Homo sapiens: one gene and its partners. The protein of the gene in region 2 interacts with the protein of the main gene of each other region in a biochemical or structural test. Each region holds a gene or a part of one and is shown on either strand. Other genes may lie near its edges.

Region 1 (4,484 bases), on a different chromosome or scaffold from region 2:
CTGCATTTTCCTAAACTCTGCCATGCTTTTCACAACACTGGGCCTTTGCTCGTGCAGTTTTCTCTGCCTTTGTGTGTATATATTTAAACCTAACTCGTACCTATGCTTCAGGACTCAGCTCAGGAATCATCTTAAAATAAATAATTTCCCAAACCACTAAATAGTTAAGTGTCTCTCCTCTAGCAGCCCACATTTTCATCCGTAAAACAAAACACCATATTCTAATGACCATCATCTGTGTCCATGTTCCCAATATGCCACTGCCAGGGACTCAACTGAGTATTATCCACTTCTGTACCTATAATATCTAGTAAAATTCCTGGCACATATTAGATGCTTAATGGATGTTTGATTAACTAAATGGAATTGGGCAGTGAGTCTTTATTCTGGAATACAAAAGACAGTATTGAAGAAGAAAGGGAGCTTCTCAATCTTTCCATTTTGGCATTGGGGAAAGATTGGCCAGCCAAAAAATGTTTATAGGATGCTCTTTCAAGGAAACTAAAAGACAAGGAGTGGTTAATTATAATTAATGCCAGGATCCAAAAGCAGGAATACTAGAGTTTATCAAAATACAATATTGATTCAGAAAGTAAGTATAGGGAGGTGGGAATCAGGCTTCAGATAGGACCGAAGATACAAAGGGCACTGAAAATTCTTTTGAATTCTCTGACATCTGGTTTGTACATGCCAATCACAAATTCCTATGCGTGGAACCAAGAGAGAATCACAAGACACATATCAGCACAGCAGGCTCATAATTGGTCTCTGATACGGGTTAAAGGTAGAGAGAACCAGGGTCAGAAATTCCTCTGCACTTAATTTGGTCAATGGCGGGTAATAATGAAGGAACAGTATTGAGAGCATGGTAGAGTCATATGACGCCTTTCCTCACCCGTTATATAAATCACTGATATTAAAAACTTAGTAGGCAGAAAGAGGAAAATAAAACAAAGTCTCAGTTATCTGAAAACAGTAAAATGAAATAGCACAAAAAAGGGAAACATTCATCATTTAAATCTCATATAGATTACTATTAATATAATTCTGATCTTGCACCACTACTTGTAGATAAATTGCATTCCTATTCTTTTAATTTGCTAGTAAATATACCAAAAATCACATTTAAAAATAGGTTTATTTAGTTTAAATTTTCATTAAGATAGAAATAGTTTTGTTAGAAAAATGAACTGTGCAGCATTCCTATTTATAAAGAGTGAAAAACCAAATAGATAAAGAGTATTTGATAAGAAAATACATTTATTTGCATATAAATAGAATTGCAGTGTATTTGTTTTCATCAAATGTTCTTCATTTCATTCTCTAATTTCCCCTATATTCATTTTCTTACAGAAATTACCATTCATACTCATAATTTGCAATACCGCTCTCAAGCTTGAAGTCCTATTTCCATTTCTGATTCTCTGTTTCTGAAATATTTTTCCAAGCATATATCACTTTTCTCCCTTTCATCTCAATTTCCTGAAAAAAAGGAAAGAAAAAAACCTTTTATCAGGAAATCCCCGCAACCTTGTTTCAAACATCTTCTGTTTGTTTGGTGGTTTTAAAATATTCAGAAGAAAAAGGAGCTGGCCTTTAAGTAACTAGAATGTCTAAGGAAAGAAGAAATCTTTCATTCGGGAATTAGATGCTGAAAGACTTGCGAACGCTTTTCTGGCACAAGGCTAAGATATGATCTTACTCATAGAAATAAATTCAAAGGTACAATGTGCAGAGGAAAAAAAATCTAAGGATTGGTGTTCTGAAGACCTAGAACAAGCTTGGAAAAGGGAAACATTAGGAGTAATTGGTGATAGCAGATTACATGAGAGGTATTTAATTAAGGAGGTTATTCACATATACTTTTTTTTTTTTTTTGAGACAAGTTTCACTCTTGTCGCCCAGGCTGGAGTGCAATGGTGTGATCTTTGCTCACTGCAACCTCCGCCTTCTGGGTTCAAGCGATTCTCCTGCCTCAGCCTCCCGAGTAACTGGGATTACAGGTGCCTGCCACCACACCTGGCTGTTTTTTGTATTTTTAGTAGAGACGGGGTTTCACCATGTTTGCCAGGCTGGTATCGAATTCCTGACCTCAGGTGATCCACCTGCTTCAGGCTCCCAAAGTGCTGGGATTACAGGCGTGAGCCACCTCTTATTGGCTGATAGAAACCCTATGGGACCTGCTGGAGTCAACAGCACCAGGAGAGAAGGAACCCATTCACACTCATCCCAATCCATTCACACTCTTGCTCACTTTACTTGAGCCACATTAACCTTGTTTGGGTTCCTCAAATCAATGACACCAGCGCACAAAAAAAACTTACATATTTATTTGAGCAAAAAGAGCTGATATAATGGGTATTTAAGATGACTATAGAAGAGTTCTGTAAGAAATTGGGTTATACGACCTTGGATTAAACACTACCATAGGGATAACCAAGACCAGGGTGTAGAAAATACTTCATCTCTTAAGGGTGATGTCTGACAAAACATTAGGAGGATTTCTACTAGGAACACAGAAATCTTGGTCAGTTCTGGTTGGTTGTGGTCATAGCGGAGTGGTGATGTGGAAGAGGAGGCAAAAATATTACCTGTATATCTGGGTACTAGCTGAAATTGTAGGTCACCCATACAGGTTAAAAAAATCAATTTCCCCTAGTATGTCATTTGCTACTTTTTAATTAATAACATTAAACAGAGGTGAGGTAACATTAATGAATAAATGAGCAACTGAGAATATTACATTTCTGGGAAAAATAACTGATATTTTAATTTATGGTTTTAATAAGATTCTAATATAAGTGATTGGTAAAATTTTTACTATTTGAATGTAATGAGTGCATTGTAGTTATGATTATTTAACTCCCATAATGATAATTTTCCTATATTTTCCTTAAAGATGTGTTCACAAGTCAATATTACAATATTTCATAATTCTCAGTCAGAGCTTTTATATAATGCAGAAAATTTAAATCTGTTTATTAACCTTCTATTAAATTCCTAACACCACATACTAGCACCATGAAAGATAGAAATATTACAGTAGACATTCCTTTATTTCAAAAATATTTACAACATATTTGGAGTAATTAAATGAAAACATTAAGTGCTTTACAGTAAAGCTCATCACTGCACTGGGATATGTTTCTGAAAATGCAACATCACTGAAACTGTGTACGGAGAGGCATTAAATTAGGGGAAAATGAAAACTTGTGGTCATTGTTGTTAAGCCTTCTATTGTGCCACACTGCTACCAATTACAATGTTTTACTTAAGTGCATCAACTGTATCTGACATCAAACATTCTTTTACAACCCCTCAAGTTAGAATTATATTTATAAGGTTCAGGAGTAAATCTGCTTATACGTTTAAATACCTTTAAGTTGGATATTTAGATAGTAGAAATAGTGTTACATTTTAAAATAAAGTACAACTCATATTGTTTTTAATCAGTTATCCACATAAATGTGCATTTTCTTTTGGGCCAAAATGAGGCAGAGGTGTAATGTGAATTTTTCATTCCTTCACACAACGATAGTCTCTCACAAAACAAAGAACAAAAGGAAACATATGTTCACAGTGGGAAGGATTATTACTCGATCATCTGTAGAAGCATGGCCCAGGGAGCCTTTGCCAACCTACTGGGGATGTCACATGTAAAAAGGTTTCTCCAAAAGGTTGGCAATATGATTTATTAAAGGAGTCAGATGACATGGGAGTTAAGGGCAGCAAACTTCATTGTGATGGAAAGGATCTAAGCTGCTCCAGCAAAATGAAAGGATTATGGTTCACCTGCCAACACTGTGCAATTTATGGATGAAACCTCAACCACGAAAAGTGAAACTTCTTTGTGTGTGTGTATGGGGTTGCGAGGGGAGACATAGGAAAGGAAAGGCAGACAGACCGTGGAAAACAGATATTTCCCCTGGATAAGAGTAGAATGGCCAGTATCATAACACTCATGTATTATAGAATTAAATATAAACCTGTTTCAGAAAGTACAATATTAAGACCCTTTTTAAATTTGATATTCTTTGATGATATCTCTGGTAAAAGCAGAAATAGAAAGAAATAGAGAGAAGGGGTTAAAAAAGAAGGACACACGCCAAGCACTTGAGTTTAGGAATATATTCCAGCTGACTACTAAAAAGCAACATTTCAGGGAAGGCCAACTTCAAATTCCTATGATGTCATATTCCACGATTTGCACCTTAGTAGACAAAGTACTTATACTGAGTAAACTGATACAGGAAGACATTTTCTAGGAGGGCTTTAGTAAAGATAGGACAAGTGTAGGAAGTTACATTTCTTTCACTGGGAATTATGGGAAGACACACAACAGCGAGGCTCGCCAGATAAATACCTCACTTGCATTCATCCATAGAAGACTTTGAAATTAGTAGCCTTCAATATAATAACAGAGTTCCATTTTTTCTTCTATTTTATATACACCATCAATATTGATATAAAAATAAAAATTTTCA
Region 2 (6,044 bases):
GCCTAAATGATGAAGGGTTTGGAATATGAAATATGCTAGGAATTGGGGGATGTTTAACTTGCAAAATCGAAAATCTGAGGAGATATGTAACCTGTATTCAAGTAAATGAGTAGCTTGAGTAGCTATTACATGGAAAAAGAATTGTGTTTAGTTCCGTATGGCTTGAAACAGCAGAAATAGTAACTACGTATAAAAGTTACATGGAACTCCAGATAACAAAGACCTAACATAGCTGTATGACATTACAGGCAAGCTTTAGGGTAATATACCATCTATCACCAGAGTGTTCAGAGACTGATTCATTTTCAACAAAAATGTATTGAGTACCTAAGTCCCACAAGGTACACAAAGCGCAGTTGATAATGACTAAATAACTTGTATGTTCTCTGCTTTTCACTGAGGTGAAGTGGTAGAAGCAAATAATAACACACACTCAAAGTAACAAAAAGATAAATCTCTAAGGAGAGGAATACAGTTCTTCAAGAGTATATAACAAAGGATCCTGACTTATAATGTGGGGTCAGAGTAGGCCTCCCTTGAGTAGCTAAGTGATGTCTGAGTAGGAGGTAAATGGTTGGGGGGAAGAACGTTACAAAGAAAGGAAACACCACTCGCAAAGACCTTGTGGTAAGAGAAACTACAGGTTCAAGGAATTGAAAGGCTCGTTTACCATATAACCTGAGCACACAGAGTAAGAGAATGAGTGGAAAGAAGCAGGAGCAGAACCACAAAGAGTCCTGAAGGCCTCATTAAGGATTTGGTTTTCTCCCAAAAGTAATGGGATGCTGCTGAGGAGGGGTTTAAGTAGTAATAGGCACGGGAAGGAACAATGAAGGTCAAGAATGAATTGGAGGTGGGCCACATGCTCTAAGAAGACTACTTGGGAGGCCGGGCACGAATCTCAGCACTTTGGGAGGCCAAGGCAGGTGGATGACCTGAGGTCAGGAGTTCGAGACCAGCCTGGCCAACATGGTAAAACCCCGTCTCTACTAGAAATACAAAAATTAGCCGGGTGTGGTGGTGGGCGCCTGTAATCCCAGTTACTCAGGAGGCTGAGGCAGGAAAATGGCTTGAACCCAGGAGGCGGAAGTTGCAGTGAGCAGGGATCACGCCATTGCACTCTAGCCTGGGTAACAAGAGCGAAACTCCATCTCAAACAAACGAACAAAAAAATACTTGGAAGCTTCCTGCAGTAGTCCAGACCAGAAATGATGGTAGTTTGGGAAAAGGAGGTAAAAATGAAGATGTGGAAAGGTGGACAGACTGGAGATTTTTAGGTTAAAATGACAGAACCCATGTGACCAATCCAGATAGTCCAGTGGGTGACTTGGAACTAGTCTAAAGCAACCATTCCCCCAAACCAGAGTCTTTGGCCCTAATTAAATACCTTTATGGGGGGCAGGAGCAGAACTCTGACAAATTTTACCGGGGGATAGGGCAGAGGACATGGGTACAGCAAAAGAGAGACATAAAGGGTTACCCACCCTCTCCCTCCCTCAGATTCCCAGCCTATATAACTGGGTGGATGATGGTATCATTCAGTGAGATATTCCTATCTCACTGGATAGGTACAGATGGTCCCTGACTTACAATGGTTTGACTTAACATTTTTCAACTTTACAATAGTGCAAAGGTGATAGGCATTCAGCAGAAACTGTACTTTGAAGACCTACACAACCATTCTGTTTTTCACTATCAGCACAGTAATAAATGACATGAGGTATTCAACATTTTATAATATAGGTTTATGTTAGATGATTTTGCCCAACTGTAGGCTAATGTAAGTGTTCTGTGCATGTGTAAGGAAGGCAGGCTAGGCTAAGCTATGATATTCGGTAGATCGGGTGTATTAAATGCATTTTCAACTTCTGATACTTTCAGCTTACAATGGGTTTATCGGAAGGTAGCCCCATCGTTAAGTCGAGGAGTATCTACACAAGTTAGGTGGGCTAAGATCCTGGGTTCGGAGTTGAAAAAGCTGCGTTTCGGGACCTTGATTTTAAATAAGCAGTTGGACATATTAACCTGAAACTTAAAGGGCAGGTCTGGACTGGGGGTAAAATATTGAGAATCACTGGCATATAGACAGTTGTAGCTATGGGCTTAGAAGAAATTGCCTGAGCGGGAAATTGAGAGTGAGAAGACGGCCTTTGAGGAATACCAGCAATGAATAACAAAGTAGAGGAGGGTGAGGCCGCAAAAGAGAGGTCTGAGTCAAACCAGGAGCGAGGCATTCCAGAACACATGTGAAGAGTGCTTTCCGTCAAGGAAGCCATGGTCAACAACGTCAAACGCTGCTGAGATATCAAATAAGATAAGGATTGAAAGGTATCAATTAAGTTGAGGGACAGGTTTCAGTGGGATGATGGGGCAGAAATCAGACTGCAGTAGGTTGAAGGGTGAGTAGGTGGTAAGCAAATGGAAGACAATAAATATAGACAACTCTATCAAATTTCCTGCTGTAAACTGGGACGGGAAAAGGTGACAGCTGTGGGGGTGGGGGAAGGGTTTAAGATAGAGAAGCTTGATTATGTTAAGAAGGAGCAGGTGAATATACAGATAGGGTCTGAAGTACTGGCAGAAGGACTAGCCTTAAAAGGAGAGGCCATGGGGAAAAGGAAGAGAAAGAAGCCAAACTAAATGACCTTTAAGATCCCTTCTTACTCTAGAATCTCATGACCTACAAGTCCCTTCAGATAGGGCATTTGCATATATGCATAAATCTATGCAAACTTATTCAAAAATTCTGTTATAAATAGATCAGTCAATCACATCTTTCACCCCCAATGACGCAGTTAATGTCCTCAGGTTTATGACCAGTGTAATCTCCGGGCAGGACTCATCCCTTGAGAGCTTTTAGCTCAAGGCAGACTGCAATACAGCACTCAACCAGCTCTCTCTCCTCGCCAAACCCATCCTACCCAACGATCCTAAAGGCTAAAGGAGGAAGTAAATTTAAAACCCTGAAACTACAGCATATCCTGCTGCATTCGAAGCGAGTGTCATCCATAAAAACAAAACGTGACACCCCAAATCCATCCTCACTCCAAGCTAAAGCCAATTCCTGCCTGACCCGACAGTTGACAGGTCCCCCAGATGGCCGGGCTTTAACACTAAAAGTCATTGGCACCCCCTCCTCTTTCCCAACGACCTTTAATTTGTGAAGAGCCAGACATGGGTTCCTGAAGATCCTTCCTACACCCCTTGCCCCGAATGCAGCAGAGGTGCTCCCGGCAGTTACTCCGGCGCCCCCTAATAAGCCCTCGCAAGGGGGTGCGGAAAGACCCCCAGAGCCCGTCAGAGGGGGCTTCGGCGACCGCGACCCTGCGGCTGTGTGGAGGACGAGGGAACAAGCCCCAAGGGATGGGAAGGGAGGATGACGGGAGGCGCAGCAGACGCGTGTAACGAGGGGTCATCTCCCCTCGAGGGGGGTGGAGTTGTTGAGGAGGGCTAATCCCCTGCCACCGCTCCCCTGCTACCCTCAAGTCCCGCTCTGGCCTCGCGCCCCATTGCTCGGATTCACTCCCACTCCTCTGGGGCCGCCTGGACCCCAGAGTGCCCGCGAGCCCGGCGCCCCTGCCTCAAGCCTGGGCTCCCAGACCGGCACTCACCCGGCCCGCCATCTTCGCGGACACGTCCGGCTCGGCGGCTGCAGCTCTGCGCTCGGCAAAGCCCGCCCCCGCCGCGCGCGCGCCCCCGCCGCCCGCCCTCGCGCAGGCGTGCAACCGCCGTGAGGACGCGCGCGTCCCTGGCCGCGTCCCCGGCGTCCTCGCTCCACAGGGCGCGCGCGCGGGCTCGGCGGCCGCCTGGGGTGCGCGGGGTGGGCAGAGCGGCGGCGCCATTTTGGCTGGAGCTGCGGGGCTGTGGTGGGTGACTCCGTTTCCAACGTGCGTGTCAGTCCGCCGGGGCCTGGAGGGCTGCGCCTGCGAGTCTCATCCCCCACTGGCGGTTCGCGCCGGAATTTGTCTCAAGGGCTTTAATGCTTCGGATCACTTATCCCTTTGCCAGCTGCTGTTCGCCCTCGAATGTCCATTTTGGTCTGTGCTTCCACACTCTCTTTAAACATGGTCTTGCTGATGAGAGCGCCCGGCGCGTTCCCTGGCTTCCCCCAAAAAAGATCAGCTCCGAGGAGTTGGTTCTGAGTTCAAATTCTCCATGAATTTTCTCACTTTTCTTTGTAGGCGTACTTGTTTTCCTAGTTGCTGGAATTGTCATCGTTGGCAGTTTTATTTATGTGTAGCCTGGAAAACTCAGTATTTTCAGATTTGAAAGTGAATTGTGATTATTTTTATACATTATTTTTATTAAATATTTGTCTTTATTTAATAAAGGCAACTTGCATCTTCGACCAACCTTTTCATTCCCCAGTGTTGTTTCATTTTAGACAATATATATGGTAGAATCTGAATAAAATATGCCCTAAATTGAGCCTTGTTGAACCTCAATGTTTCCACCATACCATTTCTCCACTGGAATCTCAGAATATCTAACTGCAAGCACGCTGAGAGGAGAAAGATTCTGCCGAATGGATTCCCTGATGCTTTTATTTACCCCACTATCATATCTCTCTTCATATTTGCACAAGACAATAGGGAATGATAGGATTTGTTCGCTTTCATTTCTCACAATTAGAATAAATCGGGGTTTTTTTCCCAACATGAGGAAAGAAGGGAAATAACTAGAAGAGCTGAGCATGCATAGTGATTTAAATTTGAGAACTAATAAAATCAGACAGTGACCTGAAGATGAACTAGGGACAGAAGAAAAAATTCATGCCAGCCAGGCGCGGTGGCTCATGCCTGTAATCCAAGCACTTTGGGTGGATCACCTAAGGTCAGGAGTTCCAGACCGGCCTGGCCAATATAGTGAAACCCCGTCTCTACTAAAAATACAAAAATTAGCCGGGCGTGGTGGCGGGCGCCTGTGATCTCAGCTACTCAGGAGGCTGAGGTGGGAGAATCGCTTGAACCCCGGAGGCAGAGGTTGAAGTGAGTTGAGATTGCGAGGCTGGGCAACAGAGCGAGACTCCGTCTAAAAAAAAAAAAAAAAAAAAAAAAATTCACGCCTATTTCATTAAGTCTCACACTGAACCTGAGGACCAGGGTGCTTGGTTGACCAAATCAGATGTTAGCTAAATCATGGGTGGGTCGGAGAGGTTATCAGGAAAGATAGGAAACTAGTTGAGTTCTGACATACTAACGTGCAGAAGCTACTAACTTACAAAAACAAATATTAGAATGGCTTGGGGAGTCCAAAGGGTTAGGTTCTTTTCTTTGTCCCTATCTACCCATCACCTGTGTACCTTCATCTCTCTGAGCCCAGTTTCCTTATTTGTTTTTGTTTGTTTGTTTTTGAGACGCAGTCTTACTCTGTCACCCAGGCTGGAGCACAGTGGCATGATCTCGGCTCACTGCAACCTCCGCCTCCCGGGTTCTAGCTATTCTCCTGTCTCAGCCTCCCAAGTCGCTGGTATTACAGGCGCCTGCCACCACACCCAGCTAATTTTTGTATTTTTAGTAGAGACAGGGTTTTGCCATGTTGTCCAGGCTGGTCTCGAACTCTTGACCTCAGGTGATCCACTGGCCTTGTCCTCCCAAAGTGCTGGGATTACAGAAGTGAGCCACCACGCCTGGCCTAGTTTCCTTATTTGTACAGTGAGAGGTATAATTAAATAAGCTTAACAGTTGTATCCTTTTTTTTTTTTTTGACACCTTGACTTTGAACCTAGAATCAAAGAGATTTTGTCCAAATAATTACCAGATCCAGAAGATGACATTGGTTCTCAGTCCAATAATCTGACATTATTTTCAAGGTTGGAAAATAATGCAAACATGTTTCTCCCTATCACTGGTTAGTTTGTCTTGTTTTACTAGATAAGCTAGATTGCAAGTACAAATGTCTTCAATTTCTCCAACAAGGAAGAATATTTATCATCTTGGAAGGATATGCCTGCTGGAAAGTTTCCAGTGTATCAGCTAATGTGCATATCTACCCATTATAAGAGGCCCTCTGTGCCCTCTCAAAGCCCTCTGTGCCTTCTCACA
Region 3 (4,484 bases), on a different chromosome or scaffold from region 2:
CATAGGCCCAGCACTGCTCCATGAGCCTGAACACGGCATCAGGACACAGCTCTGGGCAGGGCAGACGGCCCCCTGTGAGGAGAGGCACAGCACACCAGGCATGAGGAGGGAGTTTGAGGGTCCTCGGCAGACTCTGGGGGATACCATGAGCCATAGGAGCTGCTTAAGATGCACTGTTCTGAAGGATGCACTGTTCTCCACCAAGGGCCCAAAGGACAAAGAGGCCTGGCTTCTGATCCTAATCCTACCACGTGCTAGCTGTGTCCCCTCTGCCAGCCTGTTTTTCCATCTGAGAAAGGGACATATTAATCCCTACCACACATGTAGTGATGAGCAAATGAAATAACATGTGACCTAGCACAGACCAGGTGCTCACTCAGTAGTAGCTACAGGGATATTCTATTTTTTTTTTTCTTTTTCTGAGATGGAGTCTTGCTCTGTCACCCACGCTGGAATGCAGTGGTGTGATCTCAGCTCACTGCAACCTCCACCTCCCAGGTTCAAGCGATTCTTGTGCCTCAGCCTCCCAAGTAGCTGGGATTACAGGCTTGCACCACTACACCTCGCTAATTTTTTGTATTTTTAGTAGAGACAGGTTTTGCCATGTTGGCCAGGCTAGTGTCAAACTCCTAGACTCAAGTGATCCACCTTCCTCAGCCTCCCAAAATGTTGAAATTACAGGCGTGAGCCACTGCGCCCAGGTTTTTTTCTTTTTCGAGTCAAGGTCTCTCTCTCTCTCTGTCACCCAGGTTGGGGTGCAGTGGCATGATCTCAGCTCACTGCAACCTCCACCTCCCGGGCTCCAGTGATCCTCCCACCTCAGCCTCCCGAGTAGCAGGGACTACAGGCGCATGTCACCACACCCAGCTAATTTTTGTATTTTTTGTTTTTTGGTTTTTTTTGAGATGGAGTTTCACTCTTGTCGCCCAGGCTGGAGTGCAGTGGCACAATCTCGGCTCACTGCAGCCTCCGCCTCCTGGGTTCAAGCAATTCTCCCACCTCAGCCTCCCAAGTAGCTGGGATTACAGGCACGTGCCACCATGCCTGGCTAATTTTTGTATTTTTAGTAGAGATGGGGTTTCACCATGTTGGTCTGGCTGGTCTCAAACTCCTGACCACAGGTGATCCACCTGCCTCGGCCTCCCAAAGTGCTGGGATTACAGGTGTGAGCCACCGTGCCCAGTCTATTTTTGTATTTTTTGTACAGATGGAGTTTCACTGTGTTGTCCAAGCTGATCTTGAACTCCTGGGCTCAAGTGATCCACCCAGCTCAGCCTCCCAAAGTGCTGGGATGACAGGCGTGAGCAACTGGCCAGGTTATTCTTATTCTGCCTGGTGGGAAGGTTGGCATTAAGGGAGTTAGAAGAGTCCGGCTGGAGCATCTGGAAGAGGGTGCAGCCTGAGGCTGCTGTCATCACAGGGTGCTTACCCTTCTCCACAAACTCCCGTGTCTGCTGATTGCTGAGGTTGGGATAGGGGGAGGCCCCCAGGCTGAAGGTCTCCCAGAGCAAGATGCCAAAGCTCCACACGTCGCTTTCGGAGGAGTAGCGGCCTGCAGAGGAGGCGAGGAGGTGAGGCAGCGTGAGTGCACCCTCCCTGGGGCCAGGGCGAGGCAGCCGGCAGGACCCAGGCCTGGCCTCTGGCCATGGAGTCCAGGGTAGACAGGGACTAGGTACCGTAGTTAAGGGCCTCAGGTGCGGTCCACTTCACGGGGACTTGTCTGAGGCCCCCTGAGGCTGCATAGACCCCATCGGCTTCCTCTCGGGACATCCCAAAGTCACTGATCTTCAGGACATTCTTCTCTGTCACCAGGCAGTTCCGAGCAGCCAGGTCCCTGGGTGAGACAGGGCAGGGGCTCATTTGGCCAACAGTCGCCTGCCCAGCCCTGGCTGAACACTCTAGGAAAGCCAAGGACAAAAGCTGCTCCCGGCCCTGGGCACCCCTGTCTACCACAGAGGCCAACTCCCCCTCTGGAGCTGATGCCTGATGGTCCAGCGGGGGGCCCTAGGGGTATAGGTACCTCTTGACTCTGGTCGGGGGTGTTGGCAGGGCCCGTGGCCACCGCCCACTCACCGGTGGATGCAGCACTTGCTCTCCAGGTACTCCATGCCAGCAGCTGCATCCCCCACCATCTGCAGCAGAGTCTTCACCCGCAGGCGGGCCCCCTCCGTGCGGAGGAAGGTCAGGAAGTCGCCCCCTGCAGGTGGGGAGGACCCCTGCTGAGCCTCCTGAGGTAAGGCTGCCACCTGACCAGGCTGCGCGCCCTACCTGGAGCTCAGCGCCCCGCGCTCACCCTGCACAAGCTCCATGACGATGTAGATGGGCTGCTTCTGGGTGCAGACACCAATGAGACGCACGATGTTGGGGTGGCTGTACTGCTTCAGGATCCTGGAGGGCACTGCTGCTCAGGATCTACGTGGCCAGGCCCGCCTCCCCAGGGCCCCCCAGGGATGATGGGAGAAGAGCTTGGCCTCCAAGGCCAGCAGACCCGGACGTGTGACCTGGGGCAGCCTCTACCCTTCGGCACTATAAGGGGGTACTACCCGCAATGGGGGGCCTCGAGGACTAAACACCACCACGGTGGTCAAGCACTTCACACTGTGCCATGCAGTGTAACCTCTGTGTATGCGGGACCCGTGGTGATCATTAGTTTATCACCCACCTCGCTTCCTGTAGAAACTTGGCCTTGAGGTCAGGTGGGAGCGTCTCTCGACAAGACTTCACCGCCACCAGGGTGTTGTCGGCTCGCAGGCGTCCGCTGAACACTTCGCCAAAGTTCCCCTGAAACGGTCTTGGGCTCCTACCACGGCCTTCCCAGTCCCGCAGTTCTCTTCTCCGCTTCCTACCCATTCTGCTTCCTACCCCTGGGTGAGGGGCCCCCGTGTTCGGACCCCTCACCCAGGCTCTCTGGGAGTTTGACCCTCGCTGGGGAACCTAGAGAGCACATGGGGCAGGCAGGGAAAGTTGCCTCCGATGTGCCACCCTTCCTGAGAGAAGTGACATGGAAATCCAAAAATCACTCTCCCTTGGGTTTGAAAAGCATTCTGATTTTTAGGACAGTGACTTCTTCCCTAAACAGGTATCTTATGGCTTACAGTAACAGGGTGTCTCCCTGCGTGCACACAAGAGCTCGATGGGGGCGGCCTGGGTGGGGGTGATGAGGTCAGGGTGCTGGCAGAGCTGTCTGCTGGGAGTTTTCAGGGTAGGTACTGTCCCGTTTCCTGGAGGATGGTGTGTGGTGGGGGCTGGGCAGGGAGTCGGGGTACAAGTGGGGAATCAGATGGGGCAGGGAGGTCTCTGGGTGGTAGGGCAGGGGGCCCAGGCGCGACTCAGGAGAAGTCGCCAGCGACAAGGAGGCCAGCAGAGGCGCACTCACCCGTCCAATCTGCTCACCCAACACCAGGTCCTCATGGTTCAGCACCCACTTGTCCTGGGGAAGAGAGGAGACAGGGGATCAGAAGTCTGAAGAAAAGGGGTGCTGGGCCCTTAGAAGGGCTGTGTCCTCCATTTTTTGGCGCCTCCATATGTGACCAGGGGTGGGACCACGTGGGGAGCACACTGAGATGACTACGGGGTCCAGGCAGGTGCCCTGACCAGGTAAGCACCAACCTGGTGTGTACAGCCCATGGCATAGGAGTGGCCCTGACATTCCAAACCTAGAGCAAGGCTGGCCCTGAGGGTCACTCACTCTGCATCTTGTATGTAGACGGAGGGCCTGGAAAGCCCTTTCTGCTCAGACGCTGGGTGGGCCTGACCCACACTCCCCAAGCCCTGCCACAGGTGGCATGGGCCAGGCTGGGTGCAGGCTCACCTTGGGCACAGCCCTGTGCAGGACAACACCACTCTTCTTGGTGAGGGGCTGCTGGGTGCTCAGTAGGTGGTCGATGAGCAAAGGAATGCTAGGAAAGCCTTCCCCTTCCAGTCGGTACAGGTTCTGCAGGGCAGGGGACCCGGGGTCAGCAGCCTCCATTCTGAGGGGGCGTGAGCCCTGGGAGGGGGAAAGGGAGAGCAGCAGGGGAGAAAGGGCCTGCCCAGGACCAGGGGCAGAGAGACCTCCAGAAAAGATGCCATCTGATGGCACATGACATCCTGCTGCCCCACCAGGGGAGGACTCACACTTAAGCCTCTATTTTGTTGCAGGGACAGGGTGGTCTCTGTGGCCCCTTCCAGCCAGCCCTGCTAGGGAGGCATCCAAGACCTGGCAGCTACCCCCTACCCTGAAAGGCCATTTCCCTTGGGGAAGGGAAGGGAGGGGAAGAGTGAGGCCTGGAAGGCTCGGGTCCCAGCCCCACTCACATCCAAGGACTGGATGATGAAGTGCCGGGGCAGACCATCCCACAGCACCGACAGCACGTACTCCTGCTTGCCCTGGCTCTCCCGCACCAGGAAGTCCCCAGAGTGCACCAGCAGCTCAGCCACCTCTGCCCTCGGGATGGCCCCGTGGTACCACAGCTGCTCATGCAGGGGCTTCTGCACCTCCGGAA
Region 4 (4,484 bases), on a different chromosome or scaffold from region 2:
ATGACATGACAGACATCTGAGAGGAAACTTCTCATCAGTGTTTTTAAGATGTCCTAGAAAATGACCAGTACTGCACTGCTGTCAACTACAGTCATTCAGTATAAGAACTCTTGCAAAAGAATGTTTCTACAAGTTACTTGATAACTTTGCTAGCTATTCCCTAATATCAAACACAACCCTTCTTAGAAAAGGGTTGGACTCTTGATAGAAAAGCAACATTGGTTTCACTGATCACAATTGCTGAGCATCAAAAACAAAGAACCAAGACCCAGAGAGCCCTGGGACAGGGGTTGATAATCCCTCATTGTGTGGAGCCCAAAACCTGTTAGTCAAGTAGTGTGGGCACTAGAGGAGACCCATGTTCACTTCTCACCCAAACACTTGCATTTATACATATCTCTGAGATTTTGAAGACTTGCTTTCAGCTGCTTATTCTGAGTTCACATGAGGAAATGAGCGGGCTTGAGGACTGAGGACCAGACACCATGGGCTTCTATACCAAGCTGGAGTGCCTGAATGCCACTTCCCTCATCCATAAATTCGTCTTCTACAACGCAAAATTGGACTGGGGAAGCATTAAAAACAGTATTCTATTTGTGGAAAGGATTTTGCAAATACGTCAGAGGGAGGACACGAGGAGAGCTTTAATTGAGTCCTCCTCCACATTTAAGACTGGTTTAAGGATTCAAACTTACAGGACTTTCCAACCATGCAACTGGAAATTTTATGCAATCAACAATTGTACTGATATTTGGGATTTTATAGCTGTATCAACAATGCTAGAGGTTATGTGTACCACTAACAGCCTGAATTGGTGGCAACTCTCTGATGAACCAGAGGGAAAAAGAACCCTATGAAGGGAAGATATGAGGGCTTAAATTACCTTCAGTTATCTAAACACTTAACAAAAATCGAATTATACAGGCTAACTGGCACAGGTGTGTGTTTGTGTCCATGTTTTAGATTGCTTCCTAATGTTATCTTCATATCTGGTATCAAAAATCTGCATCTTCATACCCTTCAATCTACCTTCTTTGTATTTATTCCATATCAAATGCAACGGCCAGTCTTGAAACTTATTTTGGAAAGCTGAGGAGTAGAATTGAAAGCTACTGTGATCTTTCTCCCCAGCACTCCTTTTACCCTCTGCTTCTGAAATCCAAGAGGCCCAAGGAAATGAAGACTTGGAAATCTAGCAGACCTGGGTTTGAATAGTGCTCCTCATGGTTAGAACAACAGCAAAACCTTGAGGCACATCACTAGTCTCACTTCCCTCCATGTCTCCATCCTGAAGACTTGGAAATATCCTCCATCTAAAGTCATAGGAAGAGTAAATGAGCTTTAACTGTAAATCAGTGAGAAAAGCCCCAAAATTTGTTTTGTTTGTTGTTTTTCTTAACTACTGATTCAAGCTTCGACCCAGAGCAATTGTCAGAACTGCTGAAATACAACCTGGATCTCAGTAGTTTTTTAATCATCTGGGTGATTCTGAAATAATCCTTGATTTGGATATTCCAACCAACGTGAAAAAGACGTCCTTGTAGATGCTCCCTAAGTATGAGCTTCCAACTCCTTCTTTCTCACAGTTCCCATTTTTCCAAATTACAGAAAAATTCCTTCCTTGCCCTCTGTACATCATAGCTTCTCCATAAGCTGCTTACCTCAGCTTCAATTAATTCCCTCTCTGGGATTGCTTCAGTCCACAATACTTAATGCCCCTCACTCTTTTTATTGATTGATTAATTTTTACTGATTTGGAGTGCCTTTGTTTTTGTTTTTGTTTTTTTGTAGAGACAGGGTCTCACTGTGTTGCCCAGGCTGGTCTGGAACTCCTGGACTCAAGCAATCCTCCCTTCAGTTCCTCAAAGTGCTGGGATGACAGGCATGAGCAGCTGCACGCAGCCAAATTTGAAGTTTTTTTTACAGTTGTTTTGTTTTGTTTTTGTAGCACAGTACCTGGCATGTAATAAGCACTTCAAGAAATACTAGCTTCCTGCTTCCTTTTGGTTGCAGAAGTTTAACTTCTAATCACAATAGGGTATTAAAGTTAGTCACTTGAAGGCAAAATAAACAAATATAGGGACATTCCAGACCCGTAGAGAATTCCCATACTCACCTTCTTCAGGGTATAGTACTCAATTCCCTTCCGAAGTAGTAATAAAAAATAATGACTTGTTATGTGCCAGGAATGTTATAAGCCCTAGACATCTATGAATTTGTTTAATCCTCACATCATCCAAACGATGTAGCTTTTACAGATTAGGAAACTGAGGCACACAGTTAAGCAATTTGCCAGTGATGACAACTACACAGGAGTCACGCCAGAATAGAAATATAGCTGCTGGCTCCCAGACCTGTGCTTTCATCACTCTATTATACAGAATCGATTCTCATTATTCATGGTACTCATGTTCTATAAAGTCACCTCAAACACTGAATTAGCAAATACTGAACCATTGCATTGAGGGGAAAATAGGGTAGGTTCCTGGGAGCCTTTGGTCACAGCATTTTTGCCAACTCATTAATACATAACCTTGTTTTATATGTTTTTCTGTTCAAAAACACTGTATTTAATATATCCTGTTGATTCACCATCATTGAACTCATGGCCAACAGCATTGTAACTCATGCCTGAATAAAGCTTATCAAACACGTATTTTCTCTTAAGACACGTCAGAGCCTTGTCTTAGAATCCCTAGACAGTACTTCAGGACCATGCTTAGGGGCCATTTTAAACAGCAAAATCATCAACAGGGATTATGAAAATGCAAAAATCATAACACGAAGTAGATAGCAAGAGGGACACTTGTTTATAGTCTGAGGGCTGCAAGGAGAAGTGAGCCTTGCTCAGCCTCAGCTGGGAACATATACGTCATATAACTCAAATTTTTTTGCCATTCCACACGTCTGCAAAGGACTGAGAAAGCACCGTGAGTGTTGACTCGAAGGTTACAAATAAACGTCAGTAAGTCAGCGAATTTGCAAATACAGAATCCATGAATAATGAGGGCCGACTGTACTTGGAATGCTGTGTGGAGTCCTTTTTCTACTTTTGTTCCTGAGAAAGAGAGATTCACAAACTTCCCACATTCTTCCAGTGGCATCTAAGGATCCCTTCCTAAATGGCCTTTCTCCCAGCCAATAGACTGAAGCAAACCATGTCCCTGATGCTTCCTGCCCACCACCATCCATTCTTTCAACCAACAGCTTCTCCGGGCTTTCACGTGCCATGCACTTTGCTAAGAGCTTGAGGGAAATACAGCAATGAAGAAGAGATGATTTCTGTTTGGACCAGTGCTCAGGGATTCCTCCTATTAGAAATCAAAGAGGCTTCCAAAAGCCCTACAATTTTTTCCCTGTAACTAAAGAAAATAGCTTCTCAATGTAACTAAATTTTATCTCATACGCAAATTGGAATGTATACCCTTTCACTCTGAATTGCTTGAAATATTCCAGGAGAAATAAATACAACTCTGTGTAAGGTCTTCTAAAAAAGCAGAAGTCAAAGTCACCAGAAAGAACCTTTAAAATCAACTATGTTTCTGACAATGTTGCTTTCGAAACTGTTACCCCACTCCCGCAAAATCACCATTGAAAAATACCTTTGTGGTGTAATTAAGATTAATCATGAATGCACTGAATGTTCAGAAATGAGTGTTTTTGTTTTTGTTGATTAAGTGGGAAGTTACAGTTAGCAAAAATGCCTTGTACACGTTCACATGGATCTAAAACTCCTGAAACCAAGTTTACTGGGAGACAACAGTCAAGACTACACTGTTAGTTTACACATGCAGGAGATTCTGGTATTAGAATCTCACCTATTCATGCTATAAGACTTCCCAGCTGCTAGGTGCAATGCTGTTGCATGAACTGCTGGGAAAACAAAACCACACTTTATATAGTCTAAGCCCTCAATGAATGACTCAATTTGGAATAAGGTAGCCAAATGAATGAATGAACAAACTTTCAAAGAAATTCTACTAATTGAAAATTTCTTCTTTATTTTGTTGAAGTTTCTATCCTCAGAGACAAGAAAAACATCACTTTTTGAAACTTTTAATCTAGTTAATACCACTCTGAGTTATTACGGTATATTCTTATACTGGCTGAGGTAGGAACTCTGTTTAGCCCTGTTCCAAATTTCATTAAAATAACAGATGAGACAGGTCAATAAAGAAATAAACCAGAAAAGGTGAAAGAAAAATATCTGAGAATACACAGATGGAACAACTAAAACAGAAAAGAAAAAAGAAAGCTTAATAGGGTAAAAGAGGCCAAAAACTCTTTAAAGGGAGTTTAAACTTCTATGTATTAGAAAATAAAGCAAATGAAACAAGAAAATATGAGAATGGACTCAAAATTCTAAAAGACCTACAGAAGAAAGAGGAAGTACGCCAATGTGAAGATGACTATTTCTAACATCATTTAATTGCAGGAAACTAAAAGAGAACATTGTCTTTTGCTTTCAGGGCCATAAAAGAAAT

What was found.
Region 1: of the proteins of NSF (region 2) and PTPRO, one has a biochemical effect on the other in vitro, tested with the Homo sapiens proteins (one large-scale study listed by IntAct).
Region 3: of the proteins of NSF (region 2) and FES, one has a biochemical effect on the other in vitro, tested with the Homo sapiens proteins (one study listed by IntAct).
Region 4: the proteins of NSF (region 2) and ESR1 form a complex in vitro, tested with the Homo sapiens proteins (one large-scale study listed by BioGRID).

The regions. Positions count from the first base shown.
Region 1 is NC_000012.12:15,325,508-15,329,991, reverse strand, and holds part of PTPRO (receptor-type tyrosine-protein phosphatase O isoform a precursor), read right to left. Parts: intron 1-4,484.
Region 2 is NC_000017.11:46,588,355-46,594,398, reverse strand, and holds the start of NSF (vesicle-fusing ATPase), read right to left. Parts: upstream 3,731-6,044; 5' UTR 3,624-3,730; coding exon 3,612-3,623; intron 1-3,611.
Region 3 is NC_000015.10:90,891,004-90,895,487, reverse strand, and holds part of FES (tyrosine-protein kinase Fes/Fps), read right to left. Parts: coding exon 4,297-4,484; intron 3,935-4,296; coding exon 3,812-3,934; intron 3,431-3,811; coding exon 3,377-3,430; intron 2,782-3,376; coding exon 2,663-2,781; intron 2,389-2,662; coding exon 2,294-2,388; intron 2,198-2,293; coding exon 2,074-2,197; intron 1,835-2,073; coding exon 1,677-1,834; intron 1,553-1,676; coding exon 1,430-1,552; intron 73-1,429; coding exon 1-72. UniProt on the Homo sapiens protein: Tyrosine-protein kinase that acts downstream of cell surface receptors and plays a role in the regulation of the actin cytoskeleton, microtubule assembly, cell attachment and cell spreading.
Region 4 is NC_000006.12:151,814,182-151,818,665, reverse strand, and holds part of ESR1 (estrogen receptor), read right to left. Parts: intron 1-4,484.